3 separate regions of the Homo sapiens genome follow, and all the other regions are linked to region 3. Evidence: fine-mapped expression QTL. A gene starts in region 3. Each other region holds a variant in brackets. All regions are shown on one strand. Distances are from middle to middle. Region 1 overlaps NSMAF (neutral sphingomyelinase activation associated factor). Region 2 overlaps NSMAF (neutral sphingomyelinase activation associated factor). Region 3 holds the start of NSMAF (neutral sphingomyelinase activation associated factor).

Region 1 (5,231 bases), 57 kb before region 3:
AATTATTATTAGATATGTGTAGAGTTCAAAAAAAATGAAAAGGACATACCAAAAAATTTACAACAATTATTATCTCAGTGTGGTGGGATACCAAGTAAACTTATTTCCTTTTTTATAGTTGCTGATTTTTTTGGCAAGAAAATATTACTTTTATAATTTAAAAAGTAAAGCCATCTAAATACACACAGGGAGCTGTATTCAATTCACAGCAAAATTATCAAGAATAATAAAGTGTGGGAAACAATCTAAATGCCCAACAATGGAGAAAAGAAGTTGACATAAAATATGGCATATGTTAGAATGTGATACAATAATTTTAAAAAAGAATCATTGTTTTGAAGAATATCTAATAATATGGGAAAAACTTTAAGATTTAATATTAGGCTACAAAAGGTAGGACAAAAAGCTGTACATAAAATATGTTCTCACATTTACACACACATATACATGTCTAGAAAAAGCCTGAGAGGAATAGATAGAACAATTAGTGATTTTTTACATTTCTTTACTTTTTTATTATATCCAGTGCTTTGAAACAAGTATGTTGTATATATACAATCAGAAAGTGTTAAAAATGATAAGCAAGGCATTTGTATCAAACCTGTTGAACATTCTATCTGCATTATCAAATCTTCCATTCTGCAGGCACAGCATATACTCTGGTGCTAGAGGGGAAAAAGTCAGAGGTAAGTCAGGTCACAGAATCATTGAAGAATACAGTGAAATAAAATTTAATTGGGGGTAATGATAAAGAATCTTACCAATCCTAACAAGATAAAAAAGTACATAACCCGGGGAAGAGTAGTGACTCCCATACATGAACTTTGGTTCAGGCATTTCCTGGTAGCGTGTCTAGAATACAGAAAAAAAAAAAAAATAGAGCTAAGTGTTGGCTATGAAATAATAACTGACAAGTAGAAAAAGCCTAAAAGAAATCATAACATAGATATACCATATTCCTTAATTTCTCTGTTAGATAAGAAAAGGAGAAGATAAGAGGGAAAGAAAATCTGTGGCTAAACAGCATTCCTGAGACAAGTATTTTGGTTTCCCTGGCTTAATGGTAACAAAATGTTGGCACTAGATTAAATAGAACTGATTTTATGTGTCTCTTATGCGATTTACCACAGAATGCCTTCATGAAAATAATTCAGTGAACCTGTAAACAGGTTGCCCTCCTCCTTCCTAAACTGCAGACAAGAAATGCAAATGGTGAGCAGCTAATTCACGGTCAGGAGAAAAGTAAGAAAAAACTCTACGTAGAGTCACTGGTATAATTCCCCTAAGCCTTGGAGAAACGAATTTCCTTCCATAAAAACACAGGCCATGGCTTCTCGTGTTGCTTAGAAACCAAGAATCTCTAAGTCCACATACCAGTAGTCTCTCCAGCCGTTCCTTATTTAGGGCCCCTACTGGCTTACTGAGATCCCGGAAGGTTCCTGGATTTGACAAATCTATAAACATAAATCAATAAATAACTTCAGCTTATACTTAGTACCATTAACCTCCTGAATTAATTCAAATATACACATTTACTTCCACAAAAGTTTTTTTAAAAATTGAGAGCAATCCATGAGAGTTATTTTTGTTAGTTATTTATGTAGATGTAAAGAAAAGGTTAGCAATTTTGAGTTTTAAGTTAGACACAACCACTTAAGAGCAATATCTCTAATTTGACAATGCCCTGAACATTAATTTTTTTAAAAAAGTTTCTGATTAAGGAACATATATATATTCCAAGTAAAACAACAACAACAACAAAATTTTAAAAGCCATTATTCTTCTACCAAGATTTACTTTCTACATTCGAATTCTAGTGAATATTATTATTCTTCAATATTAGCCTATTTGAGAACTAGTGAGCTAAATATTTTCAGAGAAATACTTTATCATATTTCTAGAAAATCTATTATCTCTTTCAAGGACAAAGGTTCAAGATAATGTGTCAAGAGGAACTAACTGTTCACAATATATAATTTTTAAATATTACAAAATAAAGTTACAATACAATTACATTTTTCTTAAAATAATCTGTGGTAGCAAGAGAAGAGTAGATATACCCCAAAGGTAAAGTGGTTATCTCTGTAATATAATTATGGATGATTTTAATTTTCTTCTTTGATTATTTCAGGACTTTCCAAGTGTTCTATAACAAATAATCACAGTTTTTAATGTGATTTTTAAAAATAATATAAGGTGAGTGAAATTTTCAAAGTGAGAAGCAAATATTTCAAAACGTGGTACTTATAGGTAATAATGATAACCCTGGGTTAAAATCATGCCCATTTTTTCTGTGTGTGTCCTTCAAGAAGTATGGTGGAAAAAACATACATGAAACACTTACGTAACACTTATATAGTATCCTGGAATGGAAATTGGCAGTCCTTAGCAATACAACTGAAATGAGTTGTAATTTGTTCACATGTCACATCACAATTATAAAATAGAATTTATTCTGTCCTTTAAAAACAATACAGATGACTACTCCCCACTCAACTTGGTCAGAATTCCACGTGTGGCAGTTACCTAGTTCTGAGCTGGAATAATCATGTATTATCCATGGAAACACAGGGTACTGGGAGAGGTCGTTGCAGCTGCGGTCGGCCAGGTTGTTGAGGTGAAGGAGGTACTGATAGTTGGAAAGGTGTCCACGCTGCCACTGCAGCATGTAGCTCTCAGCAGTGTGCTCCGCCACATGGTGCTCTGGGGGAAGAGGACCCACGAGGTCTGCCACTTAACTTCGCAAACTTAGTATGCAAAAGCTAGGGGCTTAACGTGTAGACCATCCCTGTGCATTCTTGAAAAATGCATTGTAAGAAAAAGAAAAGTAGGCTGCTGACTTGTTTTCATAAAGTATTTGTTCAGCTATGTATAAACAGTTCCAAGATCAAGGAGGGGAAATTATTAAATACACTGAGCTATTACACTACCCTCCACAATATGACATAACCTAAACAAATACAAAAGTGTAGCGCAAATATATAAATATTACATGTTAATAGGTAATATTTATACAGTAACAAAGAATCCCTCCAAATGTGCTGTCTCCATGCATTTAAAAACCCATGGCCATCTGGGAAAGCTTATTTCTTTTATTATTTATGAAATTAAAGCAATCTTTTAGTTTTCTTTTAGGCTTGGAAGAGATGTACTACTGCTAATTTGTCAATGACTACATATTATTTATGCATGTGAAGACTAAGGAAAAGAAAAGAAATTGTTAAAGAAGAAAACAGGC[G/A]TTTGGCAGGAGGACCAATTCTCAAACTAAAAGAACCAGACCTGCCCCCTGAAATACCTCAGGAAAAATGAGATCTTAGATAAATGCAGCAATGAGAACTTCCCTTTCAGAGTGTAAAATGAATTAACTGTCCTACAAGTGGATTTTCCATTTTGTTCAGAAAATTCTGCTTTCAACCTTTCCTGATGCATTAAGCATCTTAACTCTTAATATTTATTCTCATCTACTTTTACCAAGTTTCTTCTTTAATCAGCTACTAGGAAAGGGCTTCAAAAATCAAAACACACTTCCCCCTCGTTTTCTACTTTTGAAACCCCTCAGAAAAAGTATGAACAATCTTAGGAATAAACTCAGTGAGAACTGACAGTTTCTTAGAAAATGGATATTTTAGATCATGGCAAAGTTTTTGGCTTGAGATTTTAGGACTCACCATGAAAGTTGATCTTTTTATTGTAATCTTGTTATAGTTAAAAAAAATAAAATTTAAAAACCTAGATCATGAGACAGGAAATTAAAGTAAACTTGTAACAAAGCTATACTTATACATAAAGTTACCTTCAATAGCTTAATGTATGAATAAAATACTAGCTATATATAACTATATATAAACTATATATAACTACATAGATATATATAATATATATATATAAACCTACTTTAAAATAAAATATGTTCCCTACTGAAAGCCAAGTATTCCTCCTTGAAGTAAAATTTCATTTCTAAGGGAAGATGTACTTTACTACAAATTTCACAAATAGTTTTGTGGTACACTAAAATAACAAACACATTAAGATGATATTAATAAAATCCCAATATCCTTTTTTGTTTGTTTGTTTTTTTGAGACAGGGTCTCACTCTGTCACCCAGGCTGAATTGCAGTGGTGTGATCACTGCCCACTGCAGCCTTGACCTCCCAGGCTCAAGCGATCCTCCCACTTCAGCCTCTCGAGTAGCTGGGACTACAGGCACACGCCACCAGTCCCAGCTAATTTTTAATTGTTTTTGTAGAGATGAGGTCAAGCCATGTTGCCCAGGCTGGTCTCGAACTCCTGGGCTCAAGAGATTCTCCCTCCTCGGCCTCCGAAAGTGCTGGGATTACAGTCATGAGCCACCATGCCTAGCCCCAAAATCCATTTTTAAAGATAATTCCTTTCCAGTTATCTAGCAACTTTGTAAACTAGAATAATTTAATTTAGCCTTGCAATGTAATAAAAAAACTTTGGGCTTGAACATCATAATATAAGTATTTTCTCTGGCAAAGGTGGGAAAATTCACATTTTCCATGGAAAACTGAGGAAATATCATTAATTAAAAGCAAATTCCACTCCAAAGTCAGTATATTGAGCATAGAAGGTTCACATGTTCCTTTTGCAGTCTTTCAGCTTTGTGGTTCTGACCACAATCAATGATCACAAACATATGAATAACTCACTGCCTCGCAGTACAAAACTGAGTCTTGGTTCTCATAAACTAATATAAGACCTGACTGAACATAAAAATATTTGAGTGGATTCTTCAAAATCCATTCAATTTGGAGGACGTTAAAATATAAGAGCATTTAAATATATTTATCTAGAGTTTTTAAAACATACATTCAGAATGAACTATTATCAAAGTGAATTTATATTTCCCAGAATTTTAAAAATATTATTTTGGCAATTATAGTTACTGATGAGAAGAAATTAGACCCACAAAGAGGCGATTCTACAAATAGCATTTTTCTTCTCTTATTTCCTATCCCAGATCCTTAGGAGTTGAACTACCTTCATATGAAAAGAAACCCTGTCTCTACTAAAAATACAAAAAAAATTAGCCTGGCGTGGTAGCGGGCACCTGTAGTCCCAGCTACTCGGGAGGCTGAGGCACAAGAATCACTTGAACCCAGGAGGCGGAGGTTGCAGTGAGCCGAGATCACGCCACTGCACTCCAGCCTGGGTGACAGAGCGAGACTCAGCCTCCAAAAAAAAAAAAAAAAGAAAGAAACAATGAAGGG
Region 2 (5,231 bases), 65 kb before region 3:
TTGAAAACGAAAACAGAAGAATGAACACAGTATCACTTGAACTTTCCCCTGAGCAGTATAATTAGATCTGATAGTCTTCCCAACCTTGCTTTTGATTCTCTTAGGCAATTCTGAGCATTCACCACAAAATCTATTTAAGATGATTAATTTGAGACATCCTACAAAAAAAACCAGAAACCAGTCGGTTCTATAAAGATGTTTTTCTCTCCTTGATGTCTAGTGGTTAGGATTTGGTGCTCTCACTGCAGCAGCCTGGGTTCATTTCTCAGTCAGGGAACCAAAAAAATGGAAAAAGAAAATAATAAAAGAAAAAAAAAGACGTTTTTCTTGAAATCAAGGATCCCCTGTACTAGAGGTCATCATGTTAAAGACTGCAGTAAAAGCTAAGCTCATAAGTGGTGGGTTCTGTGCCTGCCCACATACCTAAACATACTGTATACTAGAAGAAGATATGTAATTTTGGGGTGACCATCAGGATACATATAAATCAGTAATATGAATTATGAAAATCTAAATATGAGAAAAACAAACAGAAAAAAACAAAAGCTTTTGACTTTATTTTTAAACTCTCTCGGCCGGGCGTGGTGGCCCATGCCTGTAATCCCAGCACGTTGGGAGGCCGAGGCAGGTGGAACACCTGAGGTCAGGAGTTCAAGACCAACCTGGCCAACATGGTAAAACCCCATCTCTACAAATATACAAAAATTAGCCAGGCACGATGGTGGGTGCCTGTGAACCCAGCTACTCAGGAGGCTGAGGCGGGAGAATCGCTTGAACCCAGGAGGCGGAGGTTGCAGTGAGCCAAGATCGTGCCATTGCCCTCCAGCCTGGGCGACGGAGCAAGACTCTGTCTCAAAAAAAAACAAAAACAAAAACAACAACAACAAAAAAAAAACCTCTCTCTCCTTTATTGTGAAAATCCACAGAGGAGTGACATAATGCTTAATAAGCCTCAGTGGTTTGAAGCCACAACGCTCATCAAATTCATGGTTAACAAGGTCATACAAGTACAACTGTGCTGAACGATTTAACAAGCCATCCCAGACAAATCCTGCTAAGAACACAGGTTTTGCTTAAAGATAAAGCACTTTGTCTGAGGCTATAATTTTTGGCAAACTCCACAGGTAGAAATCCTGGCAAAATACAGATTGCTTCCTTCTATCAGAGAAGTGCCTCGGTGACCCTGGCATGGCCCAGTTTGGGAACTGCACATGAACTTCCTTTTGATCTACTGTGTAGAATCACTTCTATGCTTTGTGGAAAATTTTTTTATATACAATCCAAGACAGTATTTGAAAAAGAACAGAATGAAATGCTACAGATCATAAACAATGATAACAGAATCTGAGAGTAGTAATTCTGATTTTCCTGAAAGTGTTTAGTTGGATAGCACTTTGTCTTAATGAATGAAAAATATAATCTCCTATGATAAAGACTAAATAACGAGTAGCCTTACTTTATAAAGTTACAAACTTTGTCAGAACAAGTTGTTTTCTCATGGAAGCAGGAAGCAAAGATACTACCCTTCCATCTCTGCATCTTCCAGAGTGCCAACACAGTGCTCTCAACATGACAAGGCCAAGACATACTTTAATGAATAATATATAATGCAGACTACCAGGGAGAGAACAATGGTGTATATAGTAAGGGATGCTTTCTGCTTTACAGCTATAAGTCATATCAATGACACACTGCAAGGGTTTTTATAATTTTGATAATGTATAAGCATATTAAATAATACATGAATTTGATTTTGAGCTAAATCAAATATCCCGAAGAAATATACACTGAATGACAAAACTGCAAACCGTAACAGCAAATCTGCATTTCCACGTGCTGACAGGCACACATCAATTTCTGATACAGCACTTGCTACTCACAGCCAACCCCAACAAGTGGACAGCGCACCTCTCATGGGCAGGCAGGAAGTGCCTGACCCAGCAAGGGTGTGGAAAGGAGGCTGTTTCTGTCCTCTATCCTCAACTCTGGGAAACCTCATCAGCAACAGAAAGATGTTTCATTATTATTTTTGGCAAATTACCATGAAACTCTATGTAATGTACCACAAAGGAACTGCTCTAAGTTTACTTTATGTGGAGGCAGCACATGCAAGTGCAGTCCTTGACCACGAGCTAAATAATAAAGAACTCAGACATTCTAGGATTTTGGTTAAGCCGCCTTTCGGGGAGGAACACTGACCTTGGGATGTTGTGAATACTGAAGATCCATTGCGAGAGACCGTGATTCCAGTAACTGCTCTGCTCAAAAACAAAGTTTCACAAATTACTACTCATCATGTGTTAGGATACCCTCTTTGTTTCATATCCTTGATTTAATTTTACCAAGTTTCCTTAATTTTTTTCTTCACAGCATGTCTGC[C/T]GGATCTGTCCCAGCATAAACCTGCCATTACCAAATCACTGCTTGGCACCTTCTAACGTTCTGGCAACGCCTGTGGCTAGAAAACATCCCCACTCTTTGCTTCCCTGTGTTCCACATGCAATGCTTTACATATTCCTGACAATTTCTGGCAATTGGAAAACTCTTCTCCTTCTATTCCCCCTCGTTTGACCATCACCAAAAGGACAAACTCTTCTTCACAGTCACTTCACTTGCTGATTACTGAAGCTAATTTACTCAGTGACTATTCAATGATGAGAAAATTGGTTCCAGCCTGTCCTCTTAAAGGATCATTCAGTCTTCACTACCTTGGATTACAAGGTCCCTTCCTATGTGCCATTTAGAGAAGTTGAGAAAAGACAGCCATTGTCATCATGAATCAGCCAAAACTCCTTGTTTCTCTTCGGGAGGCTGGACTGTGATGTGAAGCCATCCATCTAATGCACAGCAGTATGCCCAGCTCCACCCATGACCTGTATGCCGGAGGGGCTGTCTGTCGTCATGGAGCTAGGTGGGGCCTAGTCTCTGGACCTGGGTTTCCTCTCTGTAGCAGGATGAACAGGCTAGGTCAGTGCTTCTCGAGCCTTTCTACCAGAGAACATGAAGGTCTTAATGAGAGAGGGCAGAGAACACACATATCATCTCTGGGTCCAACAGCAAGCCCAATTTCTTAGAAGCATAATTATTTTTAAAATTCATGTGAACTTTGCAATGTTCTCTGGGAGAGCTAATTTTTTTAAAAGGTGCCTTTTCACCTACATTATGTGTAAATCCAACACTCGTGGGGTATACATCACACTTCTCCCATCAAAGATTCAAGGAGCTGTGTACTCCAATTTGAGAGGCACAAAACTGGCTGCTCTCTGCCGACCACATCTTGTACTGTGAAGTGACAGACTGCAGAAATGACAGCACGGTAGCCACCACAAATCATTTCGTGCCAAACTTTCCCTACTACATCAACCTCAGGTGGAGATCACTATAGACATTTTGGGGAGATTTTTAAAAATAAAGACAACATTGAAAGGGAATTTTCCCTCTGACTCAGCTTAAAACAGTTTAATCCCATGCCAAGACCCTAACTTTTACCAGGACTATCAGCTGCTGAGAAGAAGCAGAGATATTCTTACTCTTTGTGGATTTTATAGTGCTCGTGTAACTGCAGTTTGGTGATGTTATTCCAGGCCAGTGTTTTGCTTTCTTCGGTCAGGTCTTCAAAAGACTCTTCACCTGGAGAGACGACATTAAATTTTTGCTAAGTCAACTAAGTTACCAACAGACAACAGCATCAGATTAACAATATTTTCTATTAAAATCAAACAACTAAGAAATGAAACACCCTGTCACAATATAACTGCTTTGAAATGTACCTGTTAGATGGTTCCACGTTAGTCAAGGAAAAAATTGTATAGAGAAAGATAAAAAGTATCTTTGAATAATACTAGAATCTTTTTATACTTTAACAATGTTTGCAAAGTTTTCACTCGGCCTCTAACTTATGAATTTGGGGAAATACAAGACTGAGTCATCATTTCCTTGTCAACATTGTTTCAAAAACCTGACAGTTGCCTAAGAATGCAACAATTTTGTTCTGGTGTGGGGTGGGGAAAGCAGAGATGAAATCAATTACCGCAAGGGCTTCTGGCAGGAGTAATCCTTTTACTTCTGCTTTAAGAAGGGCTGAAACAATTACCATCTTAAAACAATCACATGACAGTGGTTACAGCCTGGTGACTAAGCAGAGTGCAGTTTGAAACAGCATCACAAGATAATCCTGTGATCTTCATGATTTAACCCTCTAGAGTATTCTCTCTTAAAGAAGCTACCCCTGGGTCATGTAACTCCAGGAAGCTATTTCTCCATGCTTGAGAGAATGCTCATCTATGTATGCCTAAAATGTCTGGATGTCCTTGGAACAGACAGGAGGATAGGAGATAAAAAGTGATTTTGCTCCCAAAGCTCCACAGAGTGTCAACCTCCTTCTGGAAGCCTGTAGGTTTGAAGTTGTCTTAGGTAAAATCTAAAACCTGGGTAACTGGAGAAAGGTGAGTGTTCTTTCCTACCTTTCCAAATATTAGATGTGAGAACTGGGTCAAGTTCAATTTAGTGCCTAGCACATGCCCAGCGCAGAACAGATACCCTGTAAATGTTTGTCAAATGTTAAATAAGTGAAATCCAATGAAGAAGAGAGAGCACTTTGAATTCAAGATGTATGTGGGGCCGAGCGCGGTGGCTCAGGCCTGTAATCCCAGCACTTTGGGAGGCCGAGGAGGGTGGATCACGAGGTCAGGAGATCGAGACCATCCTGGCTAACACAGTGAAACCCTGTCTCTACTAAAAATACAAAAATTAGCCGGGCGTGGTGGCGGGCGCCTGTAGTCCCAGCTACTCAGGAGGCTGAGGCAGGAGAACGGCGGCGTGAACCCGGGAGGCGGAGCTTGCAGTGAGCCGAGATGGCGCCACTGCACTCCAGCGTGGGGGACAAAGCAAGACTCCGTCTCAAAAAAAAAAAAAAAAAAGATCTGTATGTGGGTATAGAAGAGCATAATTAGGGCCAGAGAAAGTCCCTTCTGGAAGACAGCAGGGCTGACAGTGACTGGGAAGGCAGACTGGACAGCTAGGACTGTAAGAATGAAAAGGCAAATAGCTAAGGATCAAACACCAGCTTCAAAACCACAGAAGAGAAAGAGAACCACATCAAAACATATATGGCCAACTTTCACTCATATTCAATTGCCAGAAAATAAAAGCGATTTGATTTCCCTTACAGTCTATAGCTGAAAACAAACAACATCAGCAAAAACAGGTATCTGTTTTCAGGAGAACTGCAATAA
Region 3 (5,231 bases):
CAAGTTTTCCAAGAAAAGTAACAATTTTCCTGGGTATGCTGGAGCCAATGACGAATCCAATCCATTTGCTAATTTGTGTTTATTGATGCAAGGGGATAAACCCGGAAAAATCTGGGCAGAAATGGTAAATTTGGGGCTTAATAAAGTTGCCTTAAAATATTCCTCTGTTTCAGAATGAATTCTAAGATTTATAAAAGAGACTCCTTGATTCCAGTGCATACCTGATGTGAGACAGATTCCTGTCATTCAAATGCATATTCTATGCATTGAATGGAGTATGCCCATCAGCCCAGGTTGCAAAGCCATGGGGCAGAGCACTAAACAATTTGGGCACTCAGCAAGTTATAATTCAAATAAATATAAAACACATGGCGCCAACTTTTTCAGATGACTGATGCTCAGGAACAGTTGATGCCTCCTGACTGGATAGATAAATGTTTTGGTTGCCAAGAGCTAGAGTTCTCTCTGAACACTGCCAGCCTATCACGTTGTTGTCTAATCAATGAATTCTAACAAAGCAGCATATACATGGAAATGCAAGTACAGGTTTCAAGGTTTGTGTGACACCACGGAGCTGTATGAGCTAGCCAAATTGAACACAAATTACTTCATCGAAATAACAGCCAGAACCAAGGAAAAAACGTTTCCCTGTATATCAAAAAGGCCAATATGAGTATTGGCACGAATGACTCATATCATACAACATGATGCCAATTCAAGTGTGTCAAAGTTCTCACAATTTAAATATGAATGTTCACCCACTCAATACAGAGCACCAACAAGTCTTAATATTGTTGGTACTAAACAAAGAATCTCCACTCAAGCTCTTTCCACAAGAAAAATGCATTACAAATTCAGTCAGAAGGGCATCCCCAAGTGTGAGTTACATAGTTAGGGCTCAGTTATTTAATAAACAACCCTTTCTGTGACTAAAACCTAATCACATCACCAAAAACATTTTTGAAAGCCATATCTGAGATACGTTTTCTGTGTATCGTATCTTCTTCTCTACAGTAGAAAAATGACATTTCGTACTGTGGACACACTGGTTAGACCAACATTACAGATTAGAGAAAGATGAATGTCTGGATCAAAGGGGTCGAGTCAACCCTTATAAAACAAGTGTAGACAAATCTTGAAGTCTGCACTTGTATTCCCACGTGTAACCTGCTTTGCTGGTATTCACTGATGAGACAACGTGACAGGCTAGCAGCACTGGAAGATCTGTGGCTCTCACAATCAAAACAGTGTGTCTGTAAAATGATTCAGCCCCCCTTTCCTTTTGGCATCTGAGCTGCAGACCGAGCAAGTTGTTTCTGTCACCAAAAATGCCCTGGGAACTATACATAGAGCCGAAGTGAGCTTTCTTATGAGACTTCCCTTGGGGACAGGTCCAGCATATCTGAAAGGGAACTGCTGTGAGACCATTTTAGCTCAAGGGATCCCAAATCCTTACTGGGATGCTGGTGAGAATGAGTGCTCCGCTGCCGCACCGCGATTTCGACTGCAAAGCTTTCCAACACAAGGTCCACTGCGCGGGGAGCAAGTGTTTGGGAGGCAGGACCTTGGCTTTCCTCAGAATCAGGCCTTTCCGGCGGCCCCCCTCCCAGCCTTCCAGGGCATGGAGCTAGTCCTGTGTCTAAAGGAGTCGGCAGGAAAAAGGCGCGGCAATGCGAGTGGGTGGTCGCCGGCCTGCTCGGTGCCGCCCGGCGACCAACTCTGCGGCGCCGGCGCCGAGTGCCTGGACCCGATTAAGGGGAAGGATTAGAAAGGGGGTGCCCGCCGGGCAGCGTACTCACCCTCCCCTGCGAACGCCCGGGCTCGCGTGCCGGGATCCACGCCCGGACCCCGCGCGGCCTTCCGGGTGAGCTGCCCGCGGCCGCCGGGACCTGCACTGCCGGATAGCTCGGCATGCCTCGGCTCCGCGGTGGAATCTGGCCTGGCCCGTCATCCAGTTCCTGTCCCCGGCAGGCTCCGGCCCAGACCAGGCCCCCGGCCTCTCACCCCGACCTCAGGTTTCCGCCACAGCCCCCAGCCCAGGCCCTGGACACGCGTCCGGCCCCTGCCTCCGTGCCCGGCCCCCACGCCGCCTCCCGTCCCTCAGATCTCCGGCCGGCGTCCCCACGACCGGCCCCGACTAGGCCCCCGGCTGGGCCCTTCTTCAGCTGGGCGCGCACCTCTCCTTGGAGTAGAGCTGCAGCTGCTGCTCCTGCTGCTTCTTCCGGATAAACGCCATGGAGGGTAGGCGCGGGCGGGCGCAGAGCGCACAGGCAGGCCCCGCCGCCGCCTGCCGAGGAGGTCCGGAGGAGCCGGGGAGGGCGGGATTGGTGGCCGGCTGGGGAGCGCGCGGCTGCCGGCCTGGCTTCCCCTGCGGCGCCGCTGGGCGGCCGAGAGCCCGACGCGGCGTCCCGGCCGCGCTCACCGCAGCATCCTCGCGTGGGGACTCCGGCGGCACCGTGACTCAGGCCCGGAGGAGGGGCGCGCGGTGACACGAGGCGCCCCAAACTCAGGCCGCCTCAGAGGATCGCCAGGGCCAGCGGCCAGACCAGGATCCGACCTCACACACTAAACGTTTCACCACTTTACCAACCATTGCAGGCTGCGTTTTAAATATTTTACGCATAAAAAGGGATGCTGGCCCATAAACCACCAATCTGTTGGCCACAAAGACTTGAAATAACAACGTTTTGTGTCCTCCATTGTGAAAAAAAAAAAAAGACGGAAGTTAAAGGGGTGAAGGCAACTCAGTCGTAACTATTCCAAATACACCAGGAATAAGTGGAGATTTATAGCCAAGGAGCAAGGAGCAGGTGTTCGGAAAACTGCTAAGAGGAAACATCAATTCTGGGGGAAATTCTGGCTGAACCAACCTAACAGGAGTCCCAGTGAAGGCAGGCCAGGGGGTCAGATACTAAGGGTAGGAGTAAAGAATTTTGATCACATATGGAGGGTGGGGGATTCTTGCTAAACTGCCGTGGCAGTGTTACTTCCTAACACTGCATTTACAAGGAAGTGCACACAAGGACCTGGGAGAAGATTCAGAAGCCTAACTGAAGTTTGGCCAAGCAAAGAATCTTTAACACAGTCTCTTGATTGTTGAGATAATTGCTCGCATGATTTTTTTTTATATAACAGCTTTATTGGGATATAACTCACATACCAAACAAGTCAACCATTTAAAGTATACCATTCAGCGATTTTTAGTATATTTCCAGATATGTTCAACAATCACCACAATTTGAGAACATTTTCATCACATGTAAAAGAAACCCATACCCTCTAGCTGTCACTCTTCCTAACTCTACCCTCCAAACCCCAGCCCTAGCAAACAATAATCAATTTCCTGTCTCTATGGGTTTGCCTATTCTGGATATTTCATATAAATGGAGCCATACAATATGTGGCCTTTTGTGTCTGGCTTCTTTCATTTAGCGTAATGCTTTCAAGGTTCATCTATGTTGTAGCATGTATCTGTACAGTACTTCGTTCCTTTAGATTGCTGGAGCATATTCTGTTGCATTTTGTTTATCCATTCATCAGTTGATGGACATTTCAGTTGTTTCCACATTTTGGCTATTGTGAATAAGGCTGCTGTACACAGTCATGTACAGTTTTTTTATGGACCTATGTTTCCATTTCTGTTGAGTGGAATTGGAATCTAAGAGTGGAATTGCTGGATGTGGAGGCGAAAGCAGCTCCATCTTGGAAGCTAATCCTCCGTGTTGACTTCTGATTGACCCCAGTTCTGGGAAGGCCTCTAAGATTTCTACTTTATCTATTGTTCCTTGTGTAAGAGCAGGTATCTACCCAGTATGTTCTGTCCTTAATTCAAACAACTTGATGTTATTATACTTCAATTGTCCTACACATCCCTTCTGAACCACCCCTCCCCTATGGTATATAAGCCCTAAGGGGCTGGAGTGATGGCTCATGCCGGTAATCCCAATGCTTTTGGAAGTTGAAGCTGGAGGATTCCTTGAAGCCAGGAGTTCGAGACCAGCCTGGGCAACAAAGCAAGACCCTGTCTCTACAAAAAATAAAAAATAAAAATTACCTGGGTACAGTGGCACACACCTATAGTCCCAGCTACTGGAGAGGCTGAGGCAGGAGGATTGCTTGAAGCCAGGAGTTCGAGACCAGCCTGGGCAACAAAGCAAGACCCTGTCTCTACAAAAAATAAAAAATAAAAATTACCTGGGTGCAGTGGCACACACCTATAGTCCCAGCTACTGGAGAGGCTGAGGCAGGAGGATCACTTGAGTCCAGGAGTTTGAGGCTTCTGTGAGCCATGATCGTACCACTGCACCCCAACCTAGGCAATACAGAGAGAGAGAGACCTTATCTCAAAAGAAAAAAAAAAAAAAACATTGAGTCTGGGGGTTAATAGCACAGCAATCCACCATCTCATCTTGCTGCCCAAGACACAGATATGGACATGGCTTCTGTTCCTTAGTCGCTATTAAATGTTTCTTCCCAAGGAACTTTATTTGTCAGCCTCTTTCTTCCACCTCCCGGCATCCCAGGACTTTGAGATAGATTTGTATAGGCCTGCCCACCATGGAACTGGGTCATATGGTAACTCCATGTCTAAATGTTTGAGAGACTGCCAGACTGTTTTCCAAAGTGGCTGTACGATTTAACATGCCCACCAGCAGCGTAGAAGGGTTCCAGTTTCTCTACATCTTTACCAGTATTTATTATTACCTGACTTTTGTTTAGAGCTATTCTAGTGGTATGAGTGGTATCTCAGTGTGGTTATAACTTCTTAATATATGCTGAGAATGAGCCTCTGATTGTTTACCTTTGAGGGATTCTTGAATAACACGCCTCTAAGTTTCTTTTTCACGTTAAACAGGTAATGTGCCAAACTCGTAACAAGGTTCAAGGGCGGCACATCACACAGCTGCACATGAACACCCAATCATCACACTTATGAACTACAAAAGGATCCAAACCTCTAAATTGTATGCTTGTGGAAACATATCTCATACTGTCTTAAGGATCAGGTTTTGCAGGGTTACATTTTTAGAAGCTTCAAGGTAAATGTACATCTCAGCTTTCTCTAGTAAGTCGCAGGACTGTGAAGAGAAGGTAGGGAAACCAAGAATAAAAGTTGTGGCTGGGTCTTTTGAATTTGACCCCTAGCAGCACTGGACAAAATGCTATGTATACTGAGCACACCCATTAAAAATTTTGGGAATGAATGAAGGTGCCTGGGTACCCTTTGACTG

What was found.
Region 1: its variant is fine-mapped to the expression of NSMAF in whole blood (TOPMed, PIP above 0.99).
Region 2: its variant is fine-mapped to the expression of NSMAF in whole blood (TOPMed, PIP 0.99).

Annotation. Positions count from the first base shown.
Region 1 is chr8:58,600,684-58,605,914 of GRCh38, forward strand. NSMAF (neutral sphingomyelinase activation associated factor) reads right to left here. Exons shown (of 31, transcript NM_003580.4): 13 at 2,527-2,703; 14 at 1,375-1,454; 15 at 762-852; 16 at 602-665. Among named protein-coding and RNA genes, the nearest start is that of SDCBP, 50 kb to the left of the region's middle. The variant G/A (reference allele first, on the strand shown) is at 3,239.
Region 2 is chr8:58,592,033-58,597,263 of GRCh38, forward strand. It overlaps NSMAF (neutral sphingomyelinase activation associated factor), which reads right to left. Exons shown (of 31, transcript NM_003580.4): 22 at 3,528-3,627; 23 at 2,200-2,258. Among named protein-coding and RNA genes, the nearest start is that of SDCBP, 41 kb to the left of the region's middle. RefSeq lists enhancers at 2,595-3,794, 4,144-4,193. The variant C/T (reference allele first, on the strand shown) is at 2,380.
Region 3 is chr8:58,657,396-58,662,626 of GRCh38, forward strand. NSMAF (neutral sphingomyelinase activation associated factor) reads right to left here and starts at 2,458. Exons shown (of 31, transcript NM_003580.4): 1 at 2,178-2,458. The coding sequence starts at 2,236. It overlaps LOC124902083 (small nucleolar RNA U13), which reads right to left and starts at 4,949; the gene lies at 4,846-4,949. RefSeq lists enhancers at 898-1,461, 996-1,285, 1,462-2,024 and silencers at 1,736-2,185, 2,196-2,535.